2 separate regions of the Homo sapiens genome follow, and region 1 is linked to region 2. The links come from fine-mapping of genetic effects on gene expression. Tissue or cell type: whole blood. Region 2 holds a variant in brackets; the other region holds the start of a gene. All regions are shown on one strand. Distances are from middle to middle. Region 1 holds the start of PARP8 (poly(ADP-ribose) polymerase family member 8). Region 2 has its middle 46 kb from the start of PARP8.

The links. PIP is the estimated chance that this variant, and not a neighbour inherited with it, causes the effect.
Region 1: it holds the start of PARP8, and the variant in region 2 is fine-mapped to the expression of PARP8 in whole blood (INTERVAL, PIP 0.98).

Annotation. Positions count from the first base shown.
Region 1 is chr5:50,658,428-50,674,451 of GRCh38, forward strand. It overlaps PARP8 (poly(ADP-ribose) polymerase family member 8), which reads left to right and starts at 8,210. Exons shown (of 26, transcript NM_024615.4): 1 at 8,210-8,759; 2 at 9,644-9,698. The coding sequence starts at 8,669. RefSeq lists silencers at 8,053-8,202, 8,253-8,312, 9,005-9,334 and enhancers at 8,485-9,397, 8,833-10,032.
Region 2 is chr5:50,612,525-50,628,548 of GRCh38, forward strand. No RefSeq gene overlaps it. Among named protein-coding and RNA genes, the nearest start is that of PARP8, 46 kb to the right of the region's middle. The variant T/A (reference allele first, on the strand shown) is at 7,549.

The DNA of each region.
Region 1 (16,024 bases), 46 kb after region 2:
TAAATCTGTCTGCATTCCCAGATGTCACCAAGCCCATGGGGCTTACAAATAGAAATAAGAGGAAGTCCCTATGCAGGGACTTACCATTTACTTGAAACAAATGAATCCAAAAAACGTGATAGAAAACTACCAGCTAAACTGGGGAAACAAAGGAGGAATTAGTCAATTGTATAGAAGGGTCAGGAGAGAATAAAAGTGGCTCCTTAATAATAATTAATTCTTTTTATTTATTTATTTATTTATTTTTTGAGACAGAGTCTCGCTCTGTCACCCAGGCTGGAGTGCAGTGGCACAGTCTTGGCTCACTGCAAGCTCCACTTCCCGGGTTCACTCCATTCTCTTGCCTCAGCCTCCCGGGTAGCTGGGACTACAGGCACCTGCCACCATGACCGGCTAATTTTTTGTATTTTTAGTAGAGACGGGGTTTCACCGTGTTAGCCAGGATGGTCTCGATCTCCTGACCTTGTGATCCGCCTGCCTCGGCCTCCCAAAGTGCTGGGCTTACAGGCGTGAGCCACCGTGCCTGGTCAATAATAATTAATTCTTATTAAGCAACTTAGATATTTCTTTTTGCCTGTGTTTATCTCATTTAATTCTCTTCTACAACTATAAAGAGATAGAAGCCTTTGTTCTCCTCATTCTTCAGATGAGAAAACTGAGATTTTATGTATTAAGAAATTGTGTAGCTTGCCCAAGTTCACATATCTAGGAGTTGCAGTCCATTTTACTCCAGTAAAAGTCAGAAGTTGAGTCTGTTTTACTCCAAATCCCAGTCTCCACAAGCCTTCTTGAGATAAGTGTTAAAATTGTTTGACACTTAATATCACAAAGAAAAATAATACAGAAGTTTCTACCTGAATTTTAAAAATATATTTTTGAAATTACATGGAATCCTGTTCCTAAGTAAGCACTGCAAAAATCAACCAACCAACTAAACAAACTCAAATGTTTAGTCAATTAAAACTTTGTGGGGCCAGGCACAGAGGCTCACACCTATAATTCCAGCCCTTTGGGAAGCAAAGGCAGGAGGATCACTTGAGCCCAGGAGTTTGAGAACAGCCTGGGCAACATAGTTGCACCCTGTCTCTACAAAAATTTTTTTTTTAAACTGGGCGTGGTGGCCTGTGCCTGTAGCTGTTTGGGAGGCTGAGGTGGGAAGATGACTTGAACCCAGGAGATAGAGGCTGCAGTGAGCCATGATTGTGCCACTGCACTCCAGCCTGGGTGACAGTATGAGACCCTGTCTCAAAAAGCAAAAACAAAAACAACATTTTGAAATGTCATAGTAGGCATATTACAGGCTTAAAATTATTAAGAGAGAAATTTATTTAACTTTATTTAATCTATTTTCCTCCAAACTTACTTGGACCTAGATCTGTTTTGGGAGAAAACCTCATTACATAATATGAAATTAATATACTATAAAACACTCTTGGGGAAATGCTTCTCTTTTGTAAAGAAAGCATGAAACTTTGAAAGTGAGTGCAAATTAAAATCAATCAATGCATGTATACTGTGTGCCTCCAACCTACTAAGCGTTGTTCTATGGGCTATTTAGGGGCAGTGAAAACGAAGTAGCAGGCAGAATTCAAGTCTCAAGTAATTTAAAAACTACAGCAATAAAAGACAATAATTAAGACCCCCTCTTGTGCATTACAGATGCTCCTCAACTTATGATAGGGTCATGTCCCAGTAAACTCATCATAAGTTGAAAATATCAAAAGGAGAAAATGCATTTAAAATACAAACGTACTGAGCATCATTGTTTAGCCTAGCCTACCTTAAATGTGCTCAGAATACTTCCATTTGCCTATAGTTGGGCAAAATCATCTAATACAAAGCCTATTTTATAATTAAGTGTTGAATATATCATGTAATTTTTGAATACTGTACTGAAAATGAAAAACAGAATGATTGTATGGGCACTTGAAGTAAGGTTTCCACTGAATGTGTATTGCTTTGACACCACTGTAAAGTTATAAAATCTAAAGTCGAGCTATCATAAGTTGGGGACCATTCGTGTGTTAAGATAGTCTCTATGGTAGCCTCTTCCATGGTTACAAAGATCAATAAAAACAGTTCCTGCATGCAAGGAACTTATAGTCTAGAAATGGGGAGTTCAAGGATGAGGGAAGATTAGCGAGTTGGAAAAATCAAGACAGATTTTTTTGAATAAGGTAGCATTTGGTCTGGAGTTGGCTTAAAAATTTTTTTTCTTTTCTTTCTTTTCTTTTCTTTTTCTTTCTTTTTTCTTTATTTTTATTTTTTAAGATGGAGTCTCCCTCTGTCACCCAGGCTGGAGTGCAATGGCGTGATCTCGGTTCACTGCAAACTCCGTCTCCCGGGTTCAAGTGATTCTCCTGCCTCAGCCTCCTGAGTAACTGGGACTACAGGGGCACACCACCATGCCCAGCTAATTTTTGTATTTTTAGTAAAGACGGGGTTTCGTCATGTTGACCAGGCTGGTCTCGAACTCCTGCAACTCAGGTAATTTGCCTGCCTCGGCCTCCCAAAGTGTATTTTTTTAAATTTTCTAACAAATAAAAATTTAAGGCTTTTGTGTAAGTAAAGAGTATCTATAACAGAAAATGAATTGCTATCTAGAATATATAAAAACTTCCTACAAATAAATAATACAAACAAAAAAATTCAATTAAAAAATAGAGGAAATGACAGGCAATCATACAGAGACTATACAAACTGTCAATAAACACTTGAAAAAATGCTCAATATCATTAATAATCAGGGAATTACAGACAAAAACAAGATGAATACTTTACACCTAGCTGGTTGAAAAAAAATTAAAGACGAATGGTATATACTGTTGGGAATGTTGCAGGGAATTAGGTATTCTCAAAAACAGTGGAGTATAAAATGATAAAGTAAATTTGAGAGCAATTTGCTTGTATCTATCAAATTTTTAAATTTGCCAGTTCCCTGTGAGCCAGCCAGTTCCCTGTGAGCCAGTCAATTCACTTCCCAAAGAAACTGCTGAAACTGTGCATAAAGTTGTGCATTTGTTGTAAATTGTTTTAATCACAAAACATTTTGCAAAAGCCAACATGATTGCAGAAGTACGGTTAACACTTATTATACTGCATTCATTCAATATCATTCTCTGCAGTGGCTAAACAGAATGAGCTAGATCTCTTTCCATGACAAAGAAAAAAAGCTCTTCAAGACAAGTAGAAAAATTAAGTTGTGGCCAGGCGCGGTGGCTCATGCCTGTAATCCCAGCACTTTGGGAGGCCGAGCGGGATGGATCATGAGGTCAGGAGATGGAGATCATCCTGGCAAACATGGTGAAACCCCGTCTCTACTAAAATGCAAAAAACTAGCCAGGTGTGGTGGTGCACGCCTGTAGTACCAGCTACTTGGGAGGCTGAGGCAAGGGAATTGCTTGAACCCGAGAGGTGGAGGTTGCAGTGAGCTGAGATCATGCCACTGCACTCCAGCCTGGCAACACAGCAAAACTCCATCTCAAAAAAAAAAAAAAATCAAGTTGTAAAACAATATATATTATGTAGTTCCATTAAATTATTATTATTATTTTTTGAGACAGAGTCACTGTGTCACCCAGGCTGGAGTGCAGTGGCCTGACCTTGGCTCACTGCAACCTTTGCTTCCTGGGTTCAAGCAATTCTTAGGTCCCAGCCTCCTGAGTAGCTGGGACTACAGGTATATGCCACCACACCTGGCTAATTTTTGTATTTTTAGTAGAAACGAGGTTTCGCCACGTTACCCAGGCTGGTCTCGCACTCCTCACCTCAAGCAATCCACCCACCTTGGCCTCCCAAAGTGCTGGGATTATAGGCATGAGCTACTGTGCCCAACCTAAATTAAAATTTATATGTATAAATCTGTCAACATATGTACATCTGTGTGAAGATATGAGAATGCAGTAATGCAAGACATTCCCACAAAGTTATTAACACTAGTTACCTCTGGGACGAAGAGTGAAATTAGGGGTCAGGATAGGTAAGAATTTTCACATTTTACTTTATGTACTAATATATGTCTTAAATCATTTGCGCTGAGAATATATTCATATAGTATTTATGTACTTTCTAAGAAAAAGAAAAAGAGGTATTCAAAAGAAGGAATTAATATGAATGAATACAAGCTAAGAATGAGTTTGTTTGCATGGCACAGTGAGGCATCTCATCTAATTATGGTCTAGAATGCTTCTAGGTAGAAAGGGGAATTAAAATTTTACAGGAAAAATGGATCTAAATTAAAGTGAAATTTGGAACTAGAAAGAAGAGTTAAGGTTTCATCCTGTAGCTTTAGTATTACCTAGGTTAGTTAAGATGCTAGAAAGGGCCATAAAACCTCAACACCACCCCTGTGCCGTCACATTTGACCTTAGTAACCTAACGGGGGGTATGGTAAGAACCAAAATGTGACAAATCCACAAAACATCACCTAAAGTTCTCCTTCAGCTTGTCAAGTTTATTCAAAGTTGACTTTGGTTTTTTACAGTAGACCTATCAGAAGAGGTCAGAAAAGTAGGATTAGTTTCCAAAGGCAGCTTTTTCTTTTCTTTTTTAAGAAACAGGGTCTCCCTCTGTCATCTCAACTAGAGTGCAGTGGTATAGTTACAGTACACTGCAGCCTCAAACTCCTGTGCTCAAGAGATCCTCCCAAGTAGCTAGCACTACAGGTATTCACCCACATGCCCAGCTAATTTTTATTTTATTTTTTGTAGAGACAGGGGTCTTGCAATATTGCCAAGGCTGGTTTTGAACTCCTGACCTCAAGCAACCCTCCCACCTCAACCTCCCAAAGTGCTGGGATTACAGGCATGAGCCACCACACCAGCCAAGCAGCTTTATAAGGAAAGAATTGCACACGTCCCTCTACTTAGAAGAAGGTAGTTGGGCCCTTAGCAGGCATTTTGAATTTTACGGATTTCTTTCCATTACAGAACCACCGCAAGCAGAAGCTATATCAATCTCATAATTAGAAAGAACTTTTCAGATCATCTTCCTTCCAGTGGCTCTCCATTTTTCTCAGATGAAATCCCACTTCCTCACCTTTGTTTAAAGGCCCTTTGTGGTGTCTTCTCACAGCAATGCCTCGGCCCCTACCTTGTCCCTCCTTCACTGATTCTGCCACAAAAGCAAACTGTCCCAGTGCTGTTTCCACATCCCAGCAAGGATGGTAGGCATTCCCATGGGCATTTACCACTGATGACACTATCATGCATATGGCAAAGAAGGCTGTTCCCCTCTTTGCTAATCCTGCCTCCTATCCTCTTCTTAATAACCATGGAATAGCAGAGGTCAGGCTTGTACTTTTCTTAAGACTGTACTAATGGCTGGGTCATTTGGGAAAGGAAGTTGAATGCAAGAAAGGGAAATATAACTGCCACTAGCAGAGGCTATTTTGAGAGTCCACAGGCTTCAGCCCTCCTCAAAATCCATCATAGGGCTTCTTGTCGGCTTCACTCCTGGCCTGCAGCCATTGGCGGGGCGGTTTACTTCCTCGTGTGGCTTCTGTACATATTTATTCCTTTAAGTTCAATTCAATTGCTGAAAGGTTTCAAGAGAGAAAAAAACTTCTTGTAGTCCATGTCTCACCTTAGATGAATTAACCCCTTTGAGCCTGTTTCCTCTTTTGTAAAATGAGAAAAATAACAGCTAGTATATACGGGTTATTGTGAATATTAAATGAGTAACTATATGTAAAGCTTTTAGAACAGTTTCTACCAGTTCTGGATAAATGTTAATGAATTCTGGATAAGTTCTGGATAAATATTAAGTTCTGGATAAATGTTAGTTATTAATACCCACATCACATTATTGAACTTAATGCCGCATGTCCATTACCTTATACTTCCGCAGTTGGGCCTTTTGGCACAGGCAAAAAATTTATATTTTTCACTAATAAATTATATCTGGTGGCTTTGAATCATTATTCTAAACCGGTGGAATTTTTTCAGTAGAGTCTATCATCCAACATGTAGATTATTATCTTCAATTTAGTTTGGGATACCACCTGAGTTCTCCCTCACTGTAAATATTGATTTTATTTATTTAACAAATTGGTGAAGGGCCTCTTATGTGCCACGTTCCTGAATGCATGTGTGTGTATGTTGTATACTCATGAGTGTTTAAGGAGAGATAGAACTGTTTCATCTCAAAGGCGCATATAGTTTTTGATAAGGGAAGTATGTTGAGCACACATAATATAAACATTTAAATATTCGGAGATGGGGCAAGGTAAAGAAAGGATCCTGGATATGGGCTGACTTACTTTGAGCAAAGTGCTCCATAAGGATCTAGCCTGGAAGATCCTTGGAAGGATCTACGTTGGTATAGTTTTTAATTAGAGAAATTTATCTTGCAGAAATACATACTAGATAGGTTTTTATTTTTTAATCTTACTCCTTCAAATGTACAAATATTTATTAAATACATCACACCTTAAGGGCATGAACAGGGTGAGGTTAGCTTTGTTTAACCAAAACAGGGCAGCCCATGAAGCTTAAAAAAAAATCAAATATAGGACAAGTCACAAGAAGGCCTATTTTAAGGAGTGAGTAGTAAACTAAGAGCTCATCCAGACAAAAAAATATTTGGTAGCTTTAAAACTATTTCACATTTATTTGTAGTAAGGGTTCTACTTGGAAGATGCAAGCCTTGTGGCTAGATAACTATAAAATAAATTCTTGTGAGTTAATAGACTTTCAGCCTTTCAGAGAAATTAAAGCACATAATGGAAGAAGAAATACTCATGATTCTCAGTGGTGATGTGGAAGAGAAGAGAGCATTTTTGGCAGCCAAAGGGCCTACACAAAGCAACATATCCAGGAAGGACAAAGGGCTTGAACCTGTCCTACCCTAAACAGGAAGCATTTCAGGAGAGGACTGAGCAGGAGATATAGACTGTTGTGACTGTGGCTTTACTACATCAAAGGCTGCAGTGGATCTCAATAATGCAGAATGTTTCCTTTTGTAACTCATAGTGAATATGACTGGACAAGGAAATTATTTTGTAATTTGTTTCCTGAAAGATAAAGGAGTTAGAACATAGGATCTTTCATTGATTCTACAGAATCTTAAGACTCCTTCAGGGATGGCAGTCATTCCTACCGTGCTGAACATCATGTTGTCACGGTCAGAATCAGAACTAAATTGATTAAGGGTCTGAAACAGTTTGGCAACTCTTGGGCACTTATGCTGATAAGAAAAGTGATGAGACAGGGTAATGAAAAGAGGCTGCAAGAAATGACCATTCGTGCATTCAGCCAACATTTAGGCCACCCTCCTGTATTCCAGGCACTGTACATGGCACTGAGTATGCAAAGCAAAAGGAGTCATGGTCTACTGGCGGGAGCCTTCTCAGTGGAGAAAAGATCAACAAGAAAAGTGCCTGCTGGAGACCTCTCCTAGGGCATAAACCAATATAGAGGTGGGGCAGCTACGTCAGCCTGGGGTGTCCTTAGGCAGAACAGAAAGTGAGAATCAGAGCAGTATCTCATTTCTGAACACCTGGATTGTAGCTTTCCCTTGACTGTCAAAGGAGGTGGTTTTAAAAATCAAGCCAAACAGGTTTCCATCTTTTAGGAAGACCCTGGAACGTGCCAGTTGATTCTGACCATTTCTCATGAACAGAAACACCTAGGAAGGGAGAACTGGTGAGTTTCAAGAGGAGGAAGTCCCTCAAAAGGGGCTGTGTTTCGTAAACGGCGCCCCAAAAGGGCTGAACTACTTCGATCTGGAGGAAAAAGACTCAGGCACTGAGGGAAGGGGAGGGTGCACGTCTGGAGTAATTTTAAGGCCTTTTCCGTGTTATGTGATGTGGCAATAAGGAAAGATTTGTTCGTTTTATTATTTTTTTAATTTTTAAAGATTTTCTTTTCCCCCCTTTTCCCCCTCCCAGCCACTCCGGTTTGGGTTTGCCACAAGACTATAATTCCTTTAGAAAGTGGAGTCGAATTCATAAAAGTGATGGGGGGAGGGGCGCGGAGAGGGAAGGCTGGGAGCCCCAGGGAGTCTTCACGACCGCTCAGCTCCCGGCGCGAGTGGAGGTCGGTGTGGGGAGAAGCGGCTCCCGCCCGGGATGGCTAATACTCTGCGAGCCCCGGCAGCCCGCGGCCGGCGGGGTGACTAGGCGGCGGGCGCGGAGGGTCTGCGGCGGGCGGGCGGCGCTGCAGCAGCCTGGGCACGGCTGCCGCCGCCCGCGGGCGCGAGTGTGCGCGGGTGTGGAAGGCCGGCGTGCGAGCCGTGAGGGGTGTGCGCGCGTGAGCCGGAGCGGGGCTCGCCCCTCGCCGGCGCCCGCCGCCCAGCCGGTGATTGCTCTCTGGCTGTCCCCGGCACCTCGGCCCCCACGGCCGTTGGTCCGGGCGGGTGAGGGAGAAAGTGAGACTTGGTGTCATCACCATCCATTGTCAGAAGGGGAGGAAATTGGAATCCAGCAGCGGCGAGCAGCAGCTGGGCGGTCACATCTGGGAATGCAAAGCCGACCTCCCCCTCCTCCTCCTCCTCCCCCTCCTCCTCCTCCTCTTCTCTCACCCAGGATCACTTCCGAAACCACTTCGCCTTCAGCCCCTGCCTCGGCCAGAGGTTTCATTTTTAACTGAATATTTACGAAAGCTGGAAGCGTGCGAGGGGGGTGGGGTGGGGTGGAAATAGCGGCTGCTTCTTTTCCAGGGATTTATTTAATGGGGATGTGTTCAAGGCAAGAGCGAATTCAGAAGGATATCGACGTCGTGATCCAGAAGTCCAGAGCTGAGAAGGACTGCCTGTTTGCAGGTGAGTTCTTGCTTTTCCAGAACCTCGGACCCAGCGCCCCCTTCCCAGTTTTCTGACCGCGACGTCTGTGGCTGGGGGTGGGGTGGAGGGTTGCACGTCCCCATTCTGGGGTTCATTTGGCAACAGCTGCTGCAACGAGCGCGGGAGCCAAAAGGGGGAGGGGGCGCCAGCCTCTCCCCTTCCCCTCCCCCACCGCCAAGTCTGAGGCAGCCACCAGCTTTGAGGGCAGAGCCCGCGTGGCCGGAGCGGGGGTCTAGGCGAAGGGGCAGTGCGTGGTATTTCCAGCCCCGCGTAGTGCCCGAAGCCTCCAAGCACGCTTCCTGGGTTCCAGCAGCGGCGGCAGAGCGGGGTTGGTTTGCGCAATGGGCTGAGCGGCGGCGGCCGGGAATGGAGCCTGCTGCGCTGCGCTGCGCTTGTAAGCTGCGCCCGGCGCCGAGGACCCCCGGGGGGCAGCGCTCGGCCCATCTCCGGCCCCTTCGGCTCCCTCTAGTCCCCTCCGACTGGCAAAGAGAAGGGATTCCTCGGATTCCCAAGGCACCCAGCGCCCCTGCCTGGGGGTCGCCTTTCGTCCATTTTGCTCCCCCGGGATTTTGCTTTCGCTACCGCGAGCCCGGCTGAGGCTGCTTCCGGCCTCCCCTATCGGGAAATTCCCGCTGTTGCCATGGCACCCGGCACTTGTTGCGGGGGGCGGCCTCCCGCTGCACCCAGTCGGGGGCGCGCCGCATCCCCTCGGACGCGGCGCAGAGGGACCTCGCCGCCCTCTAGCCCTTGCCTTCTGCCCGGCCAGGCCTCCCCTGACACCACCGAATGTGGGGCTCAAGTCCTGATCGGGGTTAAAACAAATCCACTCCAGGGGTAGCTTTTGACGGGACTTTCTGTTTCAGATTTCAGATACTCTGACTCCACCTTTACTTTTACCTACGTTGGCGGCCCCAGAAGGTATTTATGTGTATAGAGTTGCTTCATTTCCTGTTCACACTCTTGTGTTTCCTTTGTTCTTAGCGTGTTCCGTGTTCGGGTATTTTGGTTGCTTGTTTGTTTGATTATTGTGGCTTTTCTTTACCTGCTACCCAAGCCTGACGTCCCTCGGTTTTAAATAGCAGGAGGAGGGGAATCAATGTTTGATTCAGGTGTTTCGAGGACCACGCCACAGGCAATGAGCAGAACTCTTCATGTTGAAACTGTTCTGCTACAGTACTAGATTGCTCTCAGGCGATTTGGGGTTGATACAGGCACGCCGGTGCAAAACTGGAATACTGGATATGAAGTGAAATGTATAAAAGACATAAAATGTCACAAAATAGTTTGATCAGAAGTGTTGATTTTCCTGGTGAGTTGGGGCTGCGTGTTTCCATGTTTTCTGAAGGTTTACATAAACATGCAGCCTGCCAATTCTCTGTACATTTTTTTTTCAATGAGTGGTATTTCGGTTTTCACGTATAGAAATTGGAGACTTATATGTAGCTGGAGTGGATGACTTCTTTCTTTTGGGGGAAGAATGAGAGATGCACATTTCGTTAGTAAATTGTGAACAACTTGAAACAAACCCAAATCCAATTTTGAATTTAGGAAGTAGAGTTAAAATGAAAGGTAGCCATTCAAATACTATGCCTTGCTACCTTCACTTGTTGAGTTAGGATTTTCTTCCTTTTAGCCCTTTAGGGACACAGTAGTTTAAAAGAGCAGTAGCCACATATGAGAAGTACCAGATTTAGCTTAGAGGGAATTCCTTAGACCAGCCCTGCTGTTAGGACTTGACATTCAATATTGTTTGATCACATTCCAAAATATATCTTAGCTAATGGAAACATTTATAAACATATAAATTGCAAAAGAAGCTTTCTTGTGTACATACATTTTTAAAAGCTTGAAATTGATGTGAACTTTTAAAAACACGTAGGATCTGTATTACATTATACATCTCAAAACATTTAAAGTGAATATCATTCCAGTATATGCAATATACCTAAGCCCCAGAATTAGCACATTGATTTACTAGTTGAAAATATAACAGTGAATCACCAAACTTAAGTGTATACTTTTTGGGAGAGAATGAAATTACAGTATTTCTTAATTTACTGTAATGTCATCTTTGTAATTATGAATTAATAATTCAATGAGAGGAGACTTGGTTGATTAAATTAACGCTGGTCCTACACATTATATCTAAAGGATCTTCGTATATGACTAATATCCTCTTGGATTATTTTAACAGTTAAAATATACAAAGTGGCCCATTAAAAACAGAGTTGACTTTTCACTATTGCTGTTTTTCTGGTGAGACATGTGGACAGGAAGGACAGGTGGGCTTTTCAAGTAACTAGCTTTCTGATTTTTAATAAGATACCTCAGTTCTTTTGGCCTCAGTTTACTTATCTGTACAATCAAAGGGTAAATCATATGCTTAATCACTAAGATCTGTTAGATACTGCAGTTAAGATTCTTTATCAGCAAATTATTGGACTCTAGTGTTAACATAGCTAGAGGTGGAAAAGGGAGCAAGGCCAGGTGTTGGGATGAATAATTAAGCGAGATAACATCAGTTTTCACCATAGGAAGAAGTACCATGGTTGCTCTTAAAGTAAGAGATGTTTCCTATTTTATGTAATTTTATTAAAGGATAGTGTTTTCTTTTGTCACTGATTTAAATGTACCTGGCTGTTTCTCAGCCATTTGGCTAAGATCGAGCACAAGTGTACCTGAGCCTTTTATATCTAATCTAATGTAGACCAGCCTGTTAAAAGAGAAAGACAATTGGTTAAACTGCTGATGTGTTGCTTTGTCTTCTCAAAAGCTTGTTCTAAAATACAATATGTAAAAAGTTGTTACAGTGTAGTAACCGTAGATAATCCCTTTATGATTTGTACCTAATGGCGAATACCTTTTATTTTCTGAAAATAACGTATTTGTTTTCATTACCGACATTATAAACCAATATTTATTAATCTATTTCTTATCCTGACATTTCAGTCAGACTCTTAAAATAATCTTGCTGTGTTTTGATTTAATGTGCTTATCAACTTGTAATATTGAATTAATAGTATCATTTTAGGTGAACTAGACTTTATTGAAGGAGGTGGGAGCCTTATGGAGAGAGAGTATATGATTATCTCTATTTGTATTTAACTACCATTTCATCTAACCATTAAGAACATATTTCAAGAATAATTTTAATTCAAGTTGTAGATAAAACTTACTATACCGTTTTCTTTTTGATGCTTTCCAAGAATGAGATACATGGTATTTTAAAGACAAAGATTGATCTTACATGTTACTATTAAAAAAAAATAATAATTTTGTTCTACATTTATACTTTTAATTTTTCTGTGGATAATAAGAAATGCCAAGAGGCGATTGTGTCCATGCTGGCAAGTGGCCTAATAAATTGTCCTTTTATTTGGTGGTCCTCAGAGTGGCAGTTAACATCTTGCTATTCTGCCTTGTGGACTTGAGGTGGAAAGGTTCATGGAATTATATCCTTGCTTTTGGATGTGCAAACTGAGGCTCAGAGAGTTTAAGACACATAGTCACTTTCATCAATTAAATGTTGAAGCTGCCATGTAAACCTGTTCCATCACACTCCTGAGACCTCCTTCTTCTCCATTAGTGTTTTCAAGCTTTTTGAGCATGCAGACACTTTACCATCAAAAAATTATGTAGAGACATAATTGAGAGTTACAGTTTAAAGAAAAACAAGGTGTAATTATTTGGTTATAAGTAGCATTTACATATGCTTGAAAACTTGTGCTATATATACGGTAAGATTAATTTATTCTAGCAATGATCTTGATAATCCCCCTGATTCCCAGACTCCTTGGAATAGCTCCACAGCTATCAGTGGTTCTGCCACAGGTTCAGAGCCTTCCCAGTACTGCCTTCTTATTTGAGAGGTGTGCTAAGAACTATAAAGCAGAGGCTTCAATTGTACACAATTTGGAAGTTTAGGCAAAAGTCATTTCTTCCCTATACTTTGTCATACTTATCTTCTGTCTCTTTCTGTTTTACTGATTAGCAATAAACTCCTTAAAACCCAAAGGTTTGGGCTTCTGTTCCTTTCACTTGCAGTCAGACATGGAGTTAGTGGTAGAAGGAACAGAAGGGGTAACCTGCATGGTGACAGCTACTGAGGGGATGGATAGGAAAGCAGGCTGAGTCCCTGGGGCCAGTGGTTACCAAAGCCAAGGAGAGAGCAAGTGGAGCCCAGTGGGCCTGGCCATGGACTGCTCTGGAATTCCGAGTGTGAACTTTCAGCCAGGAATGTATTGTGAAAGTATAACTCTGAGGTTTTAAAAGTACACAAATAAGAATTGTGTTTTGTAAAAAAAAAAAATAAAAAAAAAGTTAGAAGAAGAAATACGCCAAAAAGAAGAAAGTAAAAAATACATGACTTCTGTCTTCTGTTAACATATTAAAATTTATTCTTTTAGATTTTTATGTGTCTATATACATATAAAATATATATGCATCCCCAAATTGTATTAATACTCTTTTGAGACCTCACATTTTTTTCACCCAAGAATATAACATTAATTTCTTTCCTTTAGAAAAGACATGAGACTAAAGAATGTTTATTAAGTTGAGAGTTTCCCAATTAAGGAGTATGACTCTGTATAATAATAAAGCTAATGTTTTATTAGAAATTATAATAAAATTAGAAATTTAATATTTGGCAGGATGTGTGTTGCCTGCATATGTACACCCTTTATTATATGACTGGACACTCTTTTGTGTGGTCATGGATATATTGGCATCTTTTGAAGTGTATCCTTTTTGTTTCAGGAGCTTCCGTCTAGATAAATAGCACGCGTGACACTAATAATAGTAATGGAATATTCCTTAAAGCACAGGCTCCTTCCTCTTTCTCCTGAGCCTTTGCACATGCTGCCTGGAAAACTCACCCACAACCTGCTTTCCATCCTCTCCTTTGGCTCATCCCTGCTCAGCCCTCTTTGTTAAGATATTTGCTAAGCCAGATTCTCTGAGAAGCCTTTCCTGGCATCTTCGTCTGTATGATTCTGCTAGGTGTTTCTAAAACCATGTCGTTACAGTATATTGTAATCGCCCATTTATGTCTGTTTGACTGTGAGCCTCTTGGAGATGGGAATTCTCTCCTATGCGTTGCAGTTTCCCCAGCCCCTAGCACACTGTCTAGCCCAGTATTCTTCTAAGTAAGTAGGTGTTGAATGACTTACAAAATGAATGCTAAAAGACCTGGCAGACAAGAAGGAATTTCCTGGCCTAAATGACCAGATGTGGAGAAGATACTCAGACACTTCAGGGTCCCCAATCTGGTGATGTCACTTGCAGTGGAATTTCATACGAATCCAGTGTGACAGAAGTTGCCTAGTCAAGTTATAAGTCCACTTCTCTGGGTCACATGTGCAAATACTTTTAGGGGACAGATAATGCAATATTTAAGATACTAGGGCGTGATGAGGACTGTGACACAGTGGAGAGTTTGGACTCCAAGGGTAATTAATTCAGTTGAAAAAATCAACAGCACTCTGTTGATCAAGCAAACTTTCTAGGGGCCCTAATCCACCTGGGCCCGCAGTGTGTAATTCCATAACTCATGGGATGCCATCAGGAGAGACAATCTACTTGATTGCTAAAGGGCCTTTGTTTTCTTTGGAGTTCCCCAGAAAGGAGAAGTGTATGTGTGTGCAGGGGTGAGGAGGGGGAGGGTGAAGAAGCAATGCTATCCCCTTAAAAAGGTTTGTCAATTTTCATTATGAAAGATCAGACGTGCCCACTCCAGAAATCTTGGCATATACAGTTACTTTGAAGCCATTCAGTGTTCTTCAAGATGTCACAATGAAAACAGTGATGATTTTTTAAATAAAAAATTAACATATTTCTCTTGGCAATGGGACTTTCTCACCATACTTTTATGTTATATCACTTATTATATATTCAAAATATTGATTTTTTAAAAGTGTGTTCCTTGGAGTCCTGGGAACCTGCCTCAGGAGCTGGGGTGGCTGTGGGGAGGGAGTGTGAAGGGAGCTGAATGAGTTAGTGAGAATCTGGGTCTTCATATCTTTTTTAAAATTGCAGCTGCTTTTTTCTGTTCTGTATAACAACTCTTTTTGAAAACAGTTTCATTGTTGAGTTTTAAAACCACTGACCTAAAATAACCACCAATTTAACATAAGTATAACTTTATTGAGTTTTTTTGTATTAAAATTTAAACTCCATTTTCTTCATGGATTAAGGTGATCCTATAGTGATATTTATTAAGCATCGTCTCTGCTGTTCTCTTTGCTTGCCTTGCTTTATCCCGTGTTTCCAAAAAACACAAATAAGTATTTTGTCAGCTGTTTTACGTTTTATAGCAGGAAAAACAGAGGCTTGGGTGATTTAAGTAAGTTACAGTTAGTAAGAGCCATAGGATACATTTCAGTGTAAGTCAATGTTTATGTAAGACTTAAGGGACATTGGTTGAATTGGCATGGCTAGAATAGTTGGGAATGTTTGGGAATGGGGAGAGATTGCTAATGGGATGTCTGCCAGGGGCAATACTGAAAATCTGCTGGTTGGCAAAGGTAGTGCCTGAGCCCAGTGCTAACCATAATAGTTGGAAAATTATGTACGTTGGCTGTGGAATCCTTATGCAAACATTTGGCAAATCCATGTAAATTTCCCATCATTTCTCTCTGCAGCATTTTTAAAAAGACATATAGCTGAAATTTTATCAATCCTAAAAATATTTTGTAATTATCTGCCCAGATTTGCATTTGGGTAGATTGTGCTGTAGAAGATATATCTTGCTTTAAGATAGCTGCCACTGATTATTTTAGTCTATTTTAATCAACTTATTGCCTTGTAATCTTTCCTTTTTCATTCTCTAAATTTCTGAAATTCCATCTTTCGTGTTCCCCAGGAAAGACTAGTAAGATGTGTTTTTATTAACAAGACTTACTATCCTCATTTCACCATGACATAAGTTGGGCTTTCTGTTCCAATTTATCCTACTTGAATGGTGGACACTTCCACCTGAGTATTTGTCATTTTCACCTCAACCCCAGCACATTAAAACAATCCCTTCTTAGCTCTTTAAAAGAAGCTTCTGTCTCCAGCCTTTTCCTAGTCAGTATCACATCTTTTGAGCCCGGTATGGGGATTACAGTTTCAGATTTCACCTCAAGTCTTCCTCTTCTGGTTCCTGAAGCTCTGCCAACCTCTACTTTGAAACACTGTTGGCCTCTTCATCCCATCCCATGTCAACATTTAGCCCATGCCCTGTTGGCTTTGACTTAGATCAA
Region 2 (16,024 bases):
GTTTAATTGGAAAATGCCCCCTGGCCACCCAGAACCCCGTGAGTCCAACACCAAAGGCACCGAAGTGGTCTCCTTTTCCCCCAAACACATCTCTAATTCAGCCTCTAGATAAGGGAGTCACAAGGACCTTTAAGGCTCTGCACATGGCACTCTATGGAAAGGTTTGTCAACACTACAAAAGAGAACTCCAATAGAGAGAACATCATGGAAGTCTGGAAGGCTTACACCTTTGAAGATGTCATCAGGTGATATAGAAAAAGTCATGAAAACCATGAAACTCAAAACAATAAGTTCCCGCTGGACAGAAGTACAATTTGTGTCCAGATGTTGTGCATAACTACAGAATTATGACAAACCCAATTAAGAAAAAACCCTGGAAAGAAGTATGGATATGAAGGGAAAAAAAGGTGTGGAGTGAAGGGTTGCAAGATATGGATCTCAGAGGAAGTTAAGAGCTAATAGACACCACACCAGAGGAATTAACAAAAGATGACTTGATGGAGATGAGTACTTCCTAACCAGTGCCAGATAATGAGGAAGAAGACATAGGAAAAGCAGTGCCAGAAAACAAATTGGCATTCAACAATCTGGCAAAAGGGTTTTGATTATTCAAGACTACTTTTGACTTCTTTTATGACATAGACCCTTCCATGATACAGGAACTAAAACTAAGGCAAATGGTGGAAGACGGATGGGTACTACACCGAAATGTTTTTAGAGAAATGAAAAAGCAAAATAGACAGAAATAATGATGTATTTTTGTAAAGTTTCACCAAGTGTGCTTGCCTTTTCTGCTTCCCCTTCCATCCCGTCCCCCTCTTCCACTTCTGCTACCCTAAGACAGAAGGACCAGCTCCTCCTCCTCCTCTGCCTACTCAACATGAAGACAACAATAATGAAGACCTTTAGGATGATCCACTTCCACTTAATGAATGGGTCATATATTTTTCTCTTCCTTACAATTTTCTTGATTATGATTTCTTTTCTGTAGCTTAGTTTATTGTAAGAATACAGTATATAATACACATAACATGCAAAATATATCTTAAATGTAACACGTTATCAATAAGCCTTCTGGTCAACAATAGGTTATTCATAGTTTGGGCGGAGTCAAAAGTTGTATGCGGATTTTTCACTGTGTGGGAGGCCAGCTCCCCTAACCCTATGTTGTTCAAGGGGCAACAATATTCTTTCCCGCGGGTGCTTTACTTTCCACAAATTCAAGTCCCAAAAGTAGAACTGCAAGTTCAAAAGGATTTTTAAAAAAATACTGCCAGATTACATAAAGTTTCCAATTTACATTCTCACTACCAATGTACAATGTTGGCATCCCTGAATCCTTATCAGCAATGAATTTTTAAATATACTATAAGGGATGAAAAAATATTTTTTTAAGTTTGAAATTCCCTGATCACTAATGAAGTTAAGCATCAATATTATTCCTTTAATATGCAAATGCTGAAAATACATTTAACTATAATAGATGTCAAAAATCTGTAAATCAGGCCAGGTGTGGTAGGCACTCACCTGTAGTCCCAGCCACTGGGAGACTTGAGTCCAGGAGTTCAAGACTGTAGTATGCAATGATCAAGCCTGTGAATAGCCACTGCACTCCAGAGTGGACAACATAGCAAGATTCCCATCTCTTAAAAAAAAGAGTCTTATAAGACAAAGGTCCTTGTAAATTAAGAGAAGCCAAAACAGTCACTGTGCCTGCAGAATATTTTAAATTGTTTTTTATCATACTTTAAGTTCTAGGGTACATGTGCACAACGTGCAGGTTTGTTACATATTCATACATGTGCCATGCTGGTGTGCTGCACCCATTAACTCATCATTTACATTAGGTATATCTCCTAATGCTATCCCTCCCCCAGCCTCCGACCCCACAACAGGCCCCAGTGTGTGATGTTCCCTTTCCTGTGCCCATGTGTTCTCATTGTTCAATTCCCACCTATGAGTGAGAACATGCGGTGTTTGGTTTTTTGTCCTTGCAATAGTTTCCTGAGAATGATGGTTTCCAGCTTCATCCATGTCCCTACAAAGGACATGAACTCATCATTTTTTATGGCTGCATGGTATTCCATGGTGTATATGTGCCACATTTTCTTAATCCAGTCTATCATTGATGGACATTTGGGTTGGTTCCAAGTCTTTGCTATTGGGAATAGTGCTGCAATAAACATATGTGTGCATGTGTCTTTATAGCAGCATGATGAATAATCCTTTAGGTATATACCCAGTAATGGGATGGCTAGGTCAAATGGTATTTCTAGTTCTAGATCCTTGAGGAATCGCCACACTGTCTTCCACAATGGTTGAACTAGTTTACAGTCCCACCAACAGTGTAAAAGTGTTCTTATTTCTCCACATCCTCTCCAGCACCTGTTGTTTCCTGACTTTTTAATGATCGCCATTCTAAGTGGTGTGAGATGGTATCTCATTGTGGTTTTGATTTGCATTTCTCTGATGGCCAGTGATGATGAGCATTTTTTCATGTGTTTTTTGGCTGCACAGATGTCTTCTTTTGAGAAGTGTCTGTTCATATCCTTCGCCCACATTTTGATGGGGTTGTTTGCTTTTTTCTTGTAAATTTGTTGGAGTTCTTTGTAGATTCCGGATATTAGCCCTTTGTCGGATGAGTAGATTGCAAACATTTTCTCCCATTCTGTAGGTTGCATGTTCACTCTGATGGTAGTTTCTTTTGCTGTGCAGAAGCTCTTTAGTTTAATTAGATCCCATTTGTCAATTTTGGCTTTAGTTGCCATTGCTTTTGGTGTTTTAGATATGAAGTCCTTGCCCATGCCTATGTCCTGAATGGTATTGCCTAGGTTTTCTTCTAGGGTTTTTATGGTTTTAGGTCTAACATTCAAGTCTTTAATCCATCTTGAATGAATTTTTGTATAAGGTGTAAGATCCAGTTTCAGCTTTCTACATATGGCTAGCCAGTTTTCCCAGCACCATTTATTAAATAGGGAATCCTTTCCCCATTGCTTGTTTTTGTCAGGTTTGTCAAAGATCAGATGGTTGTAGATGTGTGGTATTATTTCTGAGGTCTCTGTTCTGTTCCATTGATCTATATCTCTGTTTTGGTACCAGTACAATGCTGTTTTGGTTACTGTAGCCTTGTAGTATAGTTTGAAGTCAGGTAACATGATGCCTCCAGCTTTGTTCTTTTTGCTTAGGATTGACTTGGCAGTGCAGGCTCTTTTTTTGGTTCCATATGAACTTTAAAGTAGTTTTTTCTAATTCTGTGAAGAAAGTCATTGGTAGCTTCATGGGGATGGCATTGAATCTATAAATTACCTTGGGCAGTATGGCCATTTTCATGATATTGATTCTTCCTATCCATGAGCATGGAATGTTCTTCCATTTGTTTGTGTCCTCTTTCATTTCCTTGAGCAGTGGTTTGTATTTCTCCTTGAAGAGGTCCTTCACATCCCTTGTAAGTTGGATTCCTAGGTATTATTTCAAATATTATTTTAAAACAATGAGATATTGAAAAATACATTGGAGCAAATTCTTCACTCTTAAATCCTTTCAGCACAGAGACGATCAACTGACTGTCTGGGTGCTACATGAGCACTATTGGAGTCTCTTTCATCTGCCTGAGTCTGTGCAACAATATGAAATTATAATTTTACTATGCACCTAAAGTTTCCTCAATATATTGAATTATTACAGAATTTGATGAGTCAAATTTTGTAAATTCAGTTACCTTTTTCCACTACTCTAGGACTCATATACTATCTGGCCTAAGGGTTAAAGGTCCACAATTGAATGAGCCAAACTTGTTAATTTGAGGGTAAAGCATGTCAAGAAATCTGGCCTTAATGTCCAATGAACTTATATCATATTAAGTAGCTGGATAGAAACATGCATTCCAAAGTGGATACTATTTATCACGCTCAGTGCTCTATTCTTGAGAGTAAATCCCATGATAGGGTGGATGCTTTAATTGTGTAGTAAATAGTATTAGGTGTAATATCAAAACCACTAAGGGAACACTGATGATGTGAATAGGAACACTACCTGTGGATCTGGGAATTTTCTATAGAAATCCTATCTCTTTCAATTGCCTGTTTAGTGGGCAAGTTGTTTCAGTTCCTATAATATCTAAATTGGAGAAAATCACACCACCTACTTCTTCAGGTGTTATGATAATTATGAGTGATGACATCTTTTTAAGTGCTTAACACAATTCCTCACACATAGAAAGCAATAATAAACATTGGCTAGCATTGTAAGGATGTTTATTGTCTTCTAATGTGTTTTCATACGTTTTCTCTCTGGGATCTTGAGTGAAACATGTGGATCTAGAACAAGAACAAAATGATATTACCTTAATGATCTTTATGTATTTACACTCAAGGTGTCTTAAAATATTTTGCTGGCCAACAAAAGACACCTCCTATTCTAACTGGGCATTGTCCTTTTCTTTAAACTATGCAGACAAACAATATTATAAAGTGAGAACATCAGCATAAAAAACATAAACATAAATCTTAATAGTGAGTTCATGAAAATTCTTACTGACGAAATGGCAGTGTCACAGACTGAATGTTTATGTCCCCCCGAATTTGTATATTGAAATCCTAACCCCCAGGGTATTCGTGTTAGGAGGTAGAGCCTTGGGGAGGTGATTAGGTCATGAGGACAAGATTCTCGTGAATGGGATTTGTGCCCTTATAAAAGAGATCCCAGAGAGCTCATTGGCCCCTTCCAAAGTATGGGGATATAGCAGGAAGTTGCCATCTATGAGCCAGAAGGGTGGACCTCACCCCAGATGATAAATGTGCCTTGATATTGGACTTCCCAGCCTGCATAACTGTAAGAAATTTCTGTTGTTTATAAGTTACTCAGCTTATGGTATTTTGTTACAGTAGCCTACACAGACTAAGACGAGTAGCATTTTGAGGATTGAAATTTCTTCATAAATGAATACAGTATGCCCTGTTAAACCATATTCTCAGCTAACCCCATTTACTCACTGTTCCTCTTTATTTTAGTTTCACATTTTTGCTATTTATCTCTGTAATTTTATTCATTCTTCACAATTTGCCATTCTTATACTTCGAATCATGTTATCAGTTTAAAATACCTCCATCAAATGATAGTCTGCATTTGTTTATCCTTGGCTGATTCAAAACACTTGGCATAATTTCCTTTAAATCATCTTCCTCCCATCTCACAACACTGTATTATTTTCAATTAATTTCCAATAAACTCTTAATTGTCCATGCTCTGTCAGAGTTGGCAGAGTTAATCCCTGTTTAAGCTGATAGGTTCAACTTCTTCAACAAACAAATCTTTCATGAAAGCTGCTGACAAGCCAGAGTATTAATTAAATCTAGTTTTGTTGCTTCTCACTTTCCTTTATCTTTCTCTCTTGTTCTTTGGGAAACAGTCACAGAGTTCTGGTGCTAATAAATACTATAAAAAGTAGGGAATACAGTCTAACGAAGCAGAATATTCTCTTTAAAGTTGATGTGGTGCTTTTTGTGCACCAAGCATTGGCTCAAACGCCCAAAAATTAGGCAGCAAAACTTCCTAAGCTCATCTTCAACCATAAGGCAGAAAAGCCAAATGTATCTGAAAATATAATATCACTGGTACCTTATACCAGCACTAAGAATAAGAAAACCCTGGAAAGTGGCTCGAGTACAATATTTTTCTATTGGAATTAATTTTTCAAAATGGAAAGGACTTCATTGTTATTTTTATTATAAAATTAGTATATGTTTATTATTAAAAATAAGTACAAAAATATCTAAAAGAAAAAGGGAAAAACTACCAGCAGTTCCACATTCCAGAGATCATCACTGTTAGCATTTAGGTATACAAATATCCAAACACTTTTCCTATCAATACAATTAATTTTTAAATTTGATCATTATGCAATGTACACATGCACTAAAACATCACACTGCACCCCATAAACACGTGCAATTATTATGTCAATTAAAAACAAAATAAAAACATTTTACAAAAAATCATGTTATTTTTAATAACTTGTTTTTCTAATTGTATATATCACAAAATAAATGTCTTTACATGACATTTATTTTATGATAATAACTAATTTATTCATTTAAACAGCAAGGTACATTTCATTCTACAGATATACTATATAATATTTACTCTGATCTCTGGATGAGAATTTATGTTGCCTGTAAATATTGTATCACAAACATAAGAATATTCTCTAAAAGGTTTTTTTCCTGTATTATTATTCGGGTAGAAAAATTACTAGAAATAGAATAACTGGGTCAAAGATTAAAAACAATTTAAACTTCAATATATAGAATCAAATTATTCTCCAAAATGTCGTACTGTACGGTATTTGAATTTTGATTTTTTTCTCCATTTTCCCTACTGCCAATAACTTTAATCTTTGTCGATCGATGAGACAAAAAAGACAAATAATGCAATACTATACATAGGGAGATTAATAGGTAGAAAAAGAAATGCAAATGGCCAGGATTAACAGAAGATGTTCAACATCAATCCAATCAAAGTAATGAGTCTTTAAAATGCAATAGCAGTCAATGTTAGCAAGATTGTAGGTATTAGACATTCTCATAGGAATATAAACTAGGGCCATGTTTTAGGATCATATTAGGTCACAGCAATTAAAAAATGTTAAATTCATATGCTCTATAGCAACTTCGCGGGTTGGAATTTATCACATGGAGAATCTTGTAAAATACATAAACCAAGATATGTTATTAATGTTATTCGTAGCCTATTGTTTAAATAAAAAATATATTTACACAATACAGTTTTTAAAAGTAAGAATATCTTGAAGGTAAATTAGTAAACAAAAATAGAAAGCCTAGGCCAGGCGAGACTTTATCTCATGCTTGTAATCCCAACACTTTTGTAGACTGAGGCGGGAGGATTGCTTGAGCCCAGAAGTCTGAGACCAACCTGGACAACACAGTGAGACCTCGTCTCTAGAAAAAAAAAAAATACAAAGCGTAGTTCTGAACATCATTTTGTGTAATACTAAAAGATAAAATTTTATTTTCTAACTTGTTTAAGATCTATATTCTATGTGGGGGATGTGTATTAAGGTCATTTTTAAAAAGATACTCAAGAAATTGTCAACAGTGATTATCTTAAGGAGAGATTCTAGATGTCTGGGGGTAAGAAACTAGAGGAAGGAGAATTTTATATTTCATTTTTACCTTTATTTAATTTTTTGATTTTCTTACTGGGTGCATGAATTATATTTTATGTCAGCATGTTTTATCAGATAAATAAAATTATGAGCTATTTCTGTTTCCTCTCATTTGTTTTATGTTTAAATAAAGGAAAATGAGGTATGTCTTTTTAAAATTTGATAATCTTGAGTCCATGATTATTATGAAAGCCCTCTGTTATCTGTTTACTTCCTTTCACAATGACTGTTTATGTTGTAGAATCATTAATTTCTCAAGACAAATGTCTTAGAAGGTAGATACAAAACATGGTATACATTTTTTGATTCAAGCTAATTTCATGTTATGAACAAAATTACATAATGTAATTTCTAAGACCTTTCTG[T/A]GATCTATCAATCCACTAGGTTAAATAGCAGAAATCACTTCCAAAACAAATCCTTTTGCAGTCAGCAAAATGAAACAATTATGTGAATAAGTTTTTCCACTTGGCCTATTTTTCTGTCCATGGTTATTAATCAGTCTCACTGACTACATTTTCCATTTTACATCCCCTTTCAGGCACTACTCCAGGTGGCCAAGCATATCACATTATGTAAATTAAATAAAACAAAATCTTTTCCCATCGAGCAAATGGATATACTTCACCTCTAATGCTTCCAGTCTTTCTCAGATCATTCAAAAAGCGTGATATCGTTTCCATAAAAGGATGTTCATCCCATTTGACTAACTGGAATTTCTTTAAGTAAAATTTTACTCCAGCTAATCTTTACCAAATAGCTGAATTAATTCAAGTTGACACCCTGTTATCTACCAGCTCTTCCAGCCCTTTTGCTTGATTGTTTTGTCATTTTGCCTTTTCTTCTCTTCTAAAGTGTGAGTATGGAGATTGACCCTTCTGAAACAGCTGTGTCACATCATGATCCTTGAGGATACCAGCTCTTAACTGGCTGCATATCAAAATCACTGTTTTCTTTTACCAATACACTAGACACACTCAAGCAGAGATTTTGGATTCTGATTTAATTGACACAGAGTAGGGCCTGGGCATTTTTAAAGCTCACCACATGATTCTATTGTGCCTCATCTATCCTAGCCCTTAAGCAGGACCAAACATTTCTTCTAACTTAATTATTATTCTCTTAAACGTAGTCCAATTCCTTACAACTGATAGATTTCTATATGCTCATCTGCCTTGAGTGATGACAATTGAATGGTTTGGCTCTGTGTCCACACCCAATCTCATCTTGTAGCTCCCATAATTCCCACATGTTGTGGGAGGGGCCCAGTGGGAGATAATTGAATCATGAGGATGGGTCTTTCCTGTGCTGTTCTTGTGTTAGTGAGTAAGTCTCATGAGATCTGATCATTTTTAAAATGGAAGCTTCCCTGCACAAGCTCTCTCTTTGCCTGCTGCCATCCATGTAAGATGTAACTTGCTCCTCTTTGTCCTCCACCATGATTGTAAGGCCTCCCCACCCATGTGGAATTGTACGTCCATTAAACCTCTTTCTTTTGTAAATTGCCCAGTCTCAGGTATGTCTTTATCAGCAGCATGAAAACAGATGAATACAACAATACTGTAACAAATCTACTCACATCTGTACTCTTTATAGGAATTGCAGTGCTAAAACATTAGTGGGTCTTAATTCTAAGAGAGTTAAAAAATATTAATGCTTGTCCCACCCCTAAAGTCTAGGGTGTGACCTGAGCATTAGGTTATTTTAAACTTTTCTCAGGTAATAAACATGTGCAGCCAAGGTTTAGAACCACTCTATGGGGCCAAGATATGTAAGAAAATTCAAATCCTTTAGCTGGGCATGGTGGCACGCACCTGTAGCCCCAGGTACTCTGGAAGCTGAGGTGGGAGGATTGCTTGAGCCCAGGAGAGAGAGGCTGCATTAAGCTATGATCACATCACTGCACTCTAGCCTGGGTGACAAAGCGAGATCATCTCAAAAAAAAAAAAGGAGAAAGGAAGAAGAGGAAGGAAGGAAGGAAGGAAGGAAGGAAGGAAGGAAGGGAGGGAGGGAGAGAGAGAGAAAGAGAGAAAGAAGAAAGAAAGAAAGAAAGAAAGAAAGAAGAAAGAAAGAAAGAAAGAAAGAAAGAAAGAAAGAAAGAAAGAAAGGGAAAGAAAGAGAGAGAAGAGAAAACAAGAGAGAGGAACAAAGAAAGAGAGAAAGAAGGAAAGAAAAGAAAAAGGAAGGAAGGAAAGGAAGAAAGAAAAAAGAAAGAAAGAAAAAAGAGAAAGAAGAAGAAAAAGAGAAAGAAGAGAGAAAAAGAAAGAAAGAAAAGAAAGAAAGAAAGAAAGAAAGAAAGAAAGAAAGAAAGAAAAAAAAAGAAAAGAAAGAAAGAAAGAAGGAAAAGGAGAGAGAAAATTGAAGTCCTGCCTTGTCAAATGTACTACTCCATTTTCCCTAAGGGATCCCAAGGGAAACTTAACTACAGGATAAAGACAGACAAAAGGACATAAATTACAACTCTAGGTGCACATATTATTTTGTTTCTGAAATTGGTTTTAAAATATCTATGTCAGAGTTCATTTCTAGAACTTTATCTCTAGAAAACATATTTTCACTTCTCAATACAGGAAAATGGAGATTGGAAAAATGAGGTTGGAAAATGATTTCCATGCTTATCTCTCAGCTTCTTTTTTCAACTTCCCTTTTTTCATCTCCATATCTTCACTGATACCTAAGAATCTCTGTTACATCACAGTCTTCAAGAGCTTTGATCGCAGCGAATTAGTTAAGACATTAGCTTTCAAAAGCATATGATATTCTCTCACAAGCATGTGTCTACTTTTAATAGGGCAAGCTATGTAAAGATTTTAAATCTCATTCCAGAGATACCACATCTACTCTACCTATTTATGAGAACAGTCATGTCTCTAGACCAAGATAGAAATTCATAGTTAGGAAATAAATCCCTGTAGGGTTTTCCCACAGTCCCAATATGTCCCCTACTATCCTGATTTTAGCAACAAAAATTCCCCATCCAGAAAATCCTTCATTCCTAAGTTGAAAGATTGGTCACCCTATTTCTATCTGTGTCTCTTTCTTTCATAATTGGCTCATAATCATAGCAGTCACAATTTTGAAACATTTTATTTTACTGAATTACTCATTGCTGTTTTCTCATTTTTTAAATAATAAACACTTCTTAAGAAACATTGGAAATATACCGAAAATAGTAAACAATAAAACAGAAACCATTGGCAGAAACAGTCACTATTAAAATCTTACTATACTCCCTTCCAATGTTATTTCTGTTAATGCAAATTTAAAAATCAGAGATTCGCCTCTGTGAACTAGATTTCTTTTTACCTTTAGATATTATTTGACAAATATATAGCTCAATCATCTATCCAAACTTCTCTTTTACAGACTCCATGCCAATTAACCTTCTCCTATGAAACTATCATTTCTTCACATAGGATAAATATGGTTATTGACACACAAGCTTTCTTAGTTGCATTGCGATCCAGATGTGCATCCCTAAATTTATACCACTTGGATTTAGAACGATCATTAATAAAGAGGCTTGGTCTTATCTCTTGCAATTTGCTTCTTCCTTCTTAAATTCAGTTCTTGTAATGTAACTATAATTTTGGGGTATCTTTTTGCCTCATATTCAAATTCTCTTTCAAACTGAGGTACATTTCTATATTTCTGTATTTGTATATTGTATATAATAGTATAGAAAACAATAATGAGATTACAGTGTTTGTAGAAGTTTTGAAGTATAAATATTTAATATATAAATATATTAAATATGTATAAAATATCTGATTAGTAATAAGATAATAATGTATCTACCTCCAAGTTTTAAAACTAGGACTTTGAAATATCAGCAAAGTCCACCTGCTTTGACCAGCATCTCTTCTCCCTGCCTGCTTTAATCATGTCTTGGGTCCTGATAAATTTGCCCCCACATCCCTCCCAAATTACTCTCCAACTCTGTTCTATGTTTCAGGAAAATAACATTTATTTTCCAGTCTCCTTTGCCCTCCATTTTCCCAGTAAGCTATCCAGTGAGAGATGCCGTAAAAGCCTGCCTCTTCTCTGTAGGGCTACTTCCCACCAGATAGCCCCTCCCGCTATGGACCCAATTCCCATTATCTCTAGCAACCTGCCTGAAGTTCTGGCCTCTTGGCTCTGGTAACAGCACCTTCTCCCATTATCGTTCTAGTCCTAGGGGCAGTACTGGTTTCTTGCTCTTGAGCTGCTGACTCACCAAGCCTGATTTGGCTTCCATCACTTGTGTAATCAGTCACCTGTATTAAATCAACTCTGCTTGAAAGTCCAAGAATAGTTTCTGATTTATAAGCAAACACTGAAAGCTCTTCTATTTCTTGTTTGTTAAGCAAGATTTGTCAAAGTTAAATTTTTATTTTATTGAATTCACTTTTTGCCTCTCCTACAATGATGATTTGCTTTTCCTCCTTTAACTTGTTAATGTGATGAATTATACATAGATTTTTTTCTATTGTTAGAAATCCTTGCATTCATGGAATAAACACAATTTTCATACTATATTATCTTTTTTATAGGTTTCTAAACTTAATTTTATAACTTTTAATTTAAAATGTTTGCCATTAGGTTCATGAGGAAAGTTGGCGTCTAATCTTCCTGTCTTACACATTTCTCGTATAACATTGGTATCAAGATTGTATTGGCCTCATAAAATGAACTAACAAATGGACCTTTTTTTATTCTGGAGTTGTTCTTATAAAATGGAAATAATCCATTTCTTGAAAATATTTGATAGAACTCACCAGTAAAAATGTCTGGGCCTGCTGGTTCTCTTCTTCTAAGAAGAATTTGGAACTTATAATTAAAGCTCTTTAATGTGTTAGAAAACTTTCCAGGTTTCCTTGAACATGAATAAATTCCAATGATGAAAACCCCTCAGATATTAAATATAACCTTAAATATAACCTTTCCCCAATTCAATTTTTCTTTTGCAGATCTGATTAGATACTCTAATTTTTCAACCTCTATTTCACATATCAATTTTCCTTTCCTCCTCTGTACTGTCTTCAGCATAATTTTTTTAGTCTAACTTCCAACTCACTTATTTTCTTTTTGGTTCTATCCAATATTGTGTTTAACCTGTCCATTTAGTTTTTAATTTTCATTATATTTTTTATTTCTAAAAGATCTCTTAAATTCAGTTTCAATCTGCTTAATATAAGATACACACACTGTCTCAATTTATATTCCTGGCACACCTCATTGATTTTTTAAACATATTAAACATAGCTTTTATAGTAATATAATCATTCTAATATCTGAAATCTTTATGGGCATAATTCTCTTTCTGCTCATGATGTTTATTTCCTCATGAGTTTTCTAAGAGTCTTAGTTTTTTCTCATTTTGGATGAAATTTTACCTGTGGCCATTCTTTGAGACGTGGGGTGAATGTGGGTTTCTCCAAAGACACTTTGCCTTCGTCTTGTGTTTGGAGGTAATACCAACATGGGATAATGATAAAATAAATTATCAGTTTGATGTGCGGGTTTTTTTTTTTAATTACACTTACAGTGAAAATTTAAACCACAAATTCATGTGAAGATGGCCTTGTAATTTTTCCTCTAAATAGCACCGAGTTTGAGGCAGGAAAATTTCCTGGTTGTCTCCCCCTGAGGAACAGGTTTTTATCTAGTTTATCCTTTCACTGAAATTATAGTCCTTCGTATCTCTGGCTTTCAGGAGTTTTCTCCTGTAAGACTGTTATACTGGGCAGGCACTAGGTTTTGTCTCACACTTTCCCATATTCCAGGTGGTCATAAAAATTGAAGCTCAGGGTACTAGGGCCAGGACTGTCCTTATGGAAGCCTCTGGTTTGGGGGTCTGCATACCTCTCTGGATTTATGTATTCTCCTTATGCTTGGCCTATGTGGTTCACCTTAATTTCTATTCAAGTCAGTAATATACTTTTGAAAAATGACATGTACATTTTATCTGGTATTTGCAGATTTTATATAGCAGGATAGTGATTCAGCAAATCTAGTCTACCACAACGCTAGGAATAGAATTCCCCTAATTTTTTAAAACATTATATCAAATCATGTTTATTGCCATTAATAGTCTTATAAGTGTGATTTTAAGTAAATGCATTTTGTTATAACTCGTTGTGATTGTATATTTAACTAATTCACCCCTACCTCATGTTTTTTGGGAGTGAAGGTTGTACTCAACTCACTATATTAAGTAATACTACAGTAAATATCAATCTATACATGCATTAATAATGATTTCCAAGAAAGTAGTGAAACATGGTCATAATCATCTTTGAGGCTGATGGTATATATTTTCAAATTGCATCTCAGAAATAATGATACCAATGTGTGCTCTAATCAGCCGCATATGAAAGTGTCGTCTTTCTGTTCTCCAACCAATACAACTACCACTGTTTTTGTACCTACAAATCTGGCAAAGATGTGAGAAGGCATCTTATTGTTTCAATTTGTATTTCTTTGGTGACCAATGTACTAAATTGCTCTTTTCCTATTTATCATCCTTTTCAAACAAAATGTAAACCATTTTTTAAATTTTTTTATATTAATGCAAATCCTAAATCACTACTTTATTTATTCAATTTCCTAAGCAGAATTATATGTTGTCCCATTTATACATTTTATATTAGATCATTCTGCCTTACATTTATATGCTAAAAACTGCCAGAATTATATAATAATTATGAACAGTTGATTATAAATAATGTCTTTATTAGGATATTTCTCCATAAATCTAAATTTCATCAATCTTTCTTTAAATATCTCTACACAATTTCCTCTTGTATTATATTACTAATTGCAGATACACTTCTTTTTGCTATTTCTATTAATTCTTTCCTATTCCTATTGTCTGTTAGTCTCCCATTCTTCTCCCATAAAATAAATAAAAATTTTACTATCAGATTCTGTGATATATTACTTCTTATTCCCAGCCTTCAACATTTTAAGAATTCAGATTGACCTTTTCTCCCATTATTTCAAGTTATCAGCATGTCAATACTTGGGAAATCTCATCAAGTGTTTAACAGTGCATACCTTACTGACTCATTATTTATTTCAGTTTAATCTTTCTTATTTTCATTCAATATTTTTCTCAGTAATATGACTTTTTCAAGCTTTTTATTTTCTAATGCATTTCTCCAAATAGCAGCCATAACCCTTATATGCCCTCTTTCAATGACAGCAACAAAAGTGTGCTAGGCTTCTTGGAAGAAAATAATTATACCAATTTAAGAAGGAGAAAATTGATGTACTGATAAACAAATGGGCATCTTAGGATCATGTTTCTCACAAGTAAAGCAGTTCCAGAAATTCCTAGGACCCTAATGGGTTTTATTGTAAATAGGTTAAACATATCACGTAAAAAATTGTTTTCTACAGTTCTCTAATATTGCTTACAATTGTCCACGTTTCCATGTTTATAAACTTGCCTTTTTTTTTTTTTAATGGAGTTTTGCTGTTGTTGCCCAGGCTGGAGTGCAATGGCGTGATCTTGGCTCACTGCAACCTCCACCTACCAGGTTCAAGCAATTCTTCTGCCTCAGCTTTCTGAGTAGCTGGGATTATAGGTGTGTGCCACCACACCTGGCTAATTTTTTGTATTTTTAGTAGAGACGGGGTTTCACCATGTTGGGCAGGCTGGTCTCGAACTCCTGACCTCAGGTGATCCACCCGCCTTGGCCTCCCAAAGTGCTGGGATTACAGGCGTGAGCCACTGCACCCAGCCTTATACTTGCCCACTTTTTAATTCTAAGAACTTGCTACTCAATGGAGGATCCTGGGACCAATACCATCAGCATGACTTGAGGACTTGTTTGAAAGCAGACTCAGAATCTGCAATTTATCAGGATCCCCAGGTAATTTGTATGTGCAGTCTAGTTTGGTAGATCTGCTCTGGCAGACTGGAAGACTCTTCTATCTGCCTCATGTAAGGTGCAGGTGACATAATTAGGTAATCAAGCAAAAGATCACATTTTTTAATAAGAAAGAGACACTGGCTATTATTTTGAGTGGCAAAACAGGTTATTCAGTCCCAGTTTAAAATGGAAATGACAGAGACCAAGATCAAGATTTCTAATTTGAGATGTGCCTGTGATGCAATTACATTTGCTGAATGAAACTGCTTCAGTAATTAGATGCAGGTTTCTTCTCTCTTCTTTTTGAGATGTAGAGAGGACACAATAGGCTCATGGAACTTAAAGAACTCGACACCAGCTAACAAAACATGCTATCCAGCTTCTTTCATTTCACCATATTGCTTTCTTGAAAACATAGTACAGTGCCAGTTTAGCATTGAAAAAAATCAGTTCTCCTAATTCTAAAAAGAGGAGACAGCCAGGCGTGGTGGGTCACTAAAAATACAAAAAATTAGCTGGGCATGGTGGTGCATGCCTGTAATCCCAGCTACTTGGGAGGCTGAGGCAAAAGAATCACTTAAACCCGGGAGGCGAAGGTTGCAGTGTGCTCAGATAGCACCATTGCACTCCCGCCTGGGCAACAAGAGTGAAACTCCATCTCAAGAAAAAAAAAAGAAACAGAGAGAGAGAGACAAACTGTAATTTCATTTCAGAAGTTTTATAGGGTACTATTTCCAGTTCTTTTTTTCTTACTCCATTGAAGTGTAATTAGCAGTATGTGAAAATTTCCACTTTATCCTCAATCAGTAGCCTCTCCTTCCAATTAGCATATTTTTTCTATTAATTTTGTAAAGTGGGATTCTTGTTTTACACATACCCCTGGAAAGTATACTTAAACTGTGAGACCCTGGGATTTTATATTTCCAAATAGAAGATACCATCCTCTTGTATCACAAAATGTACTTAAGATGGTTTGGATTATATT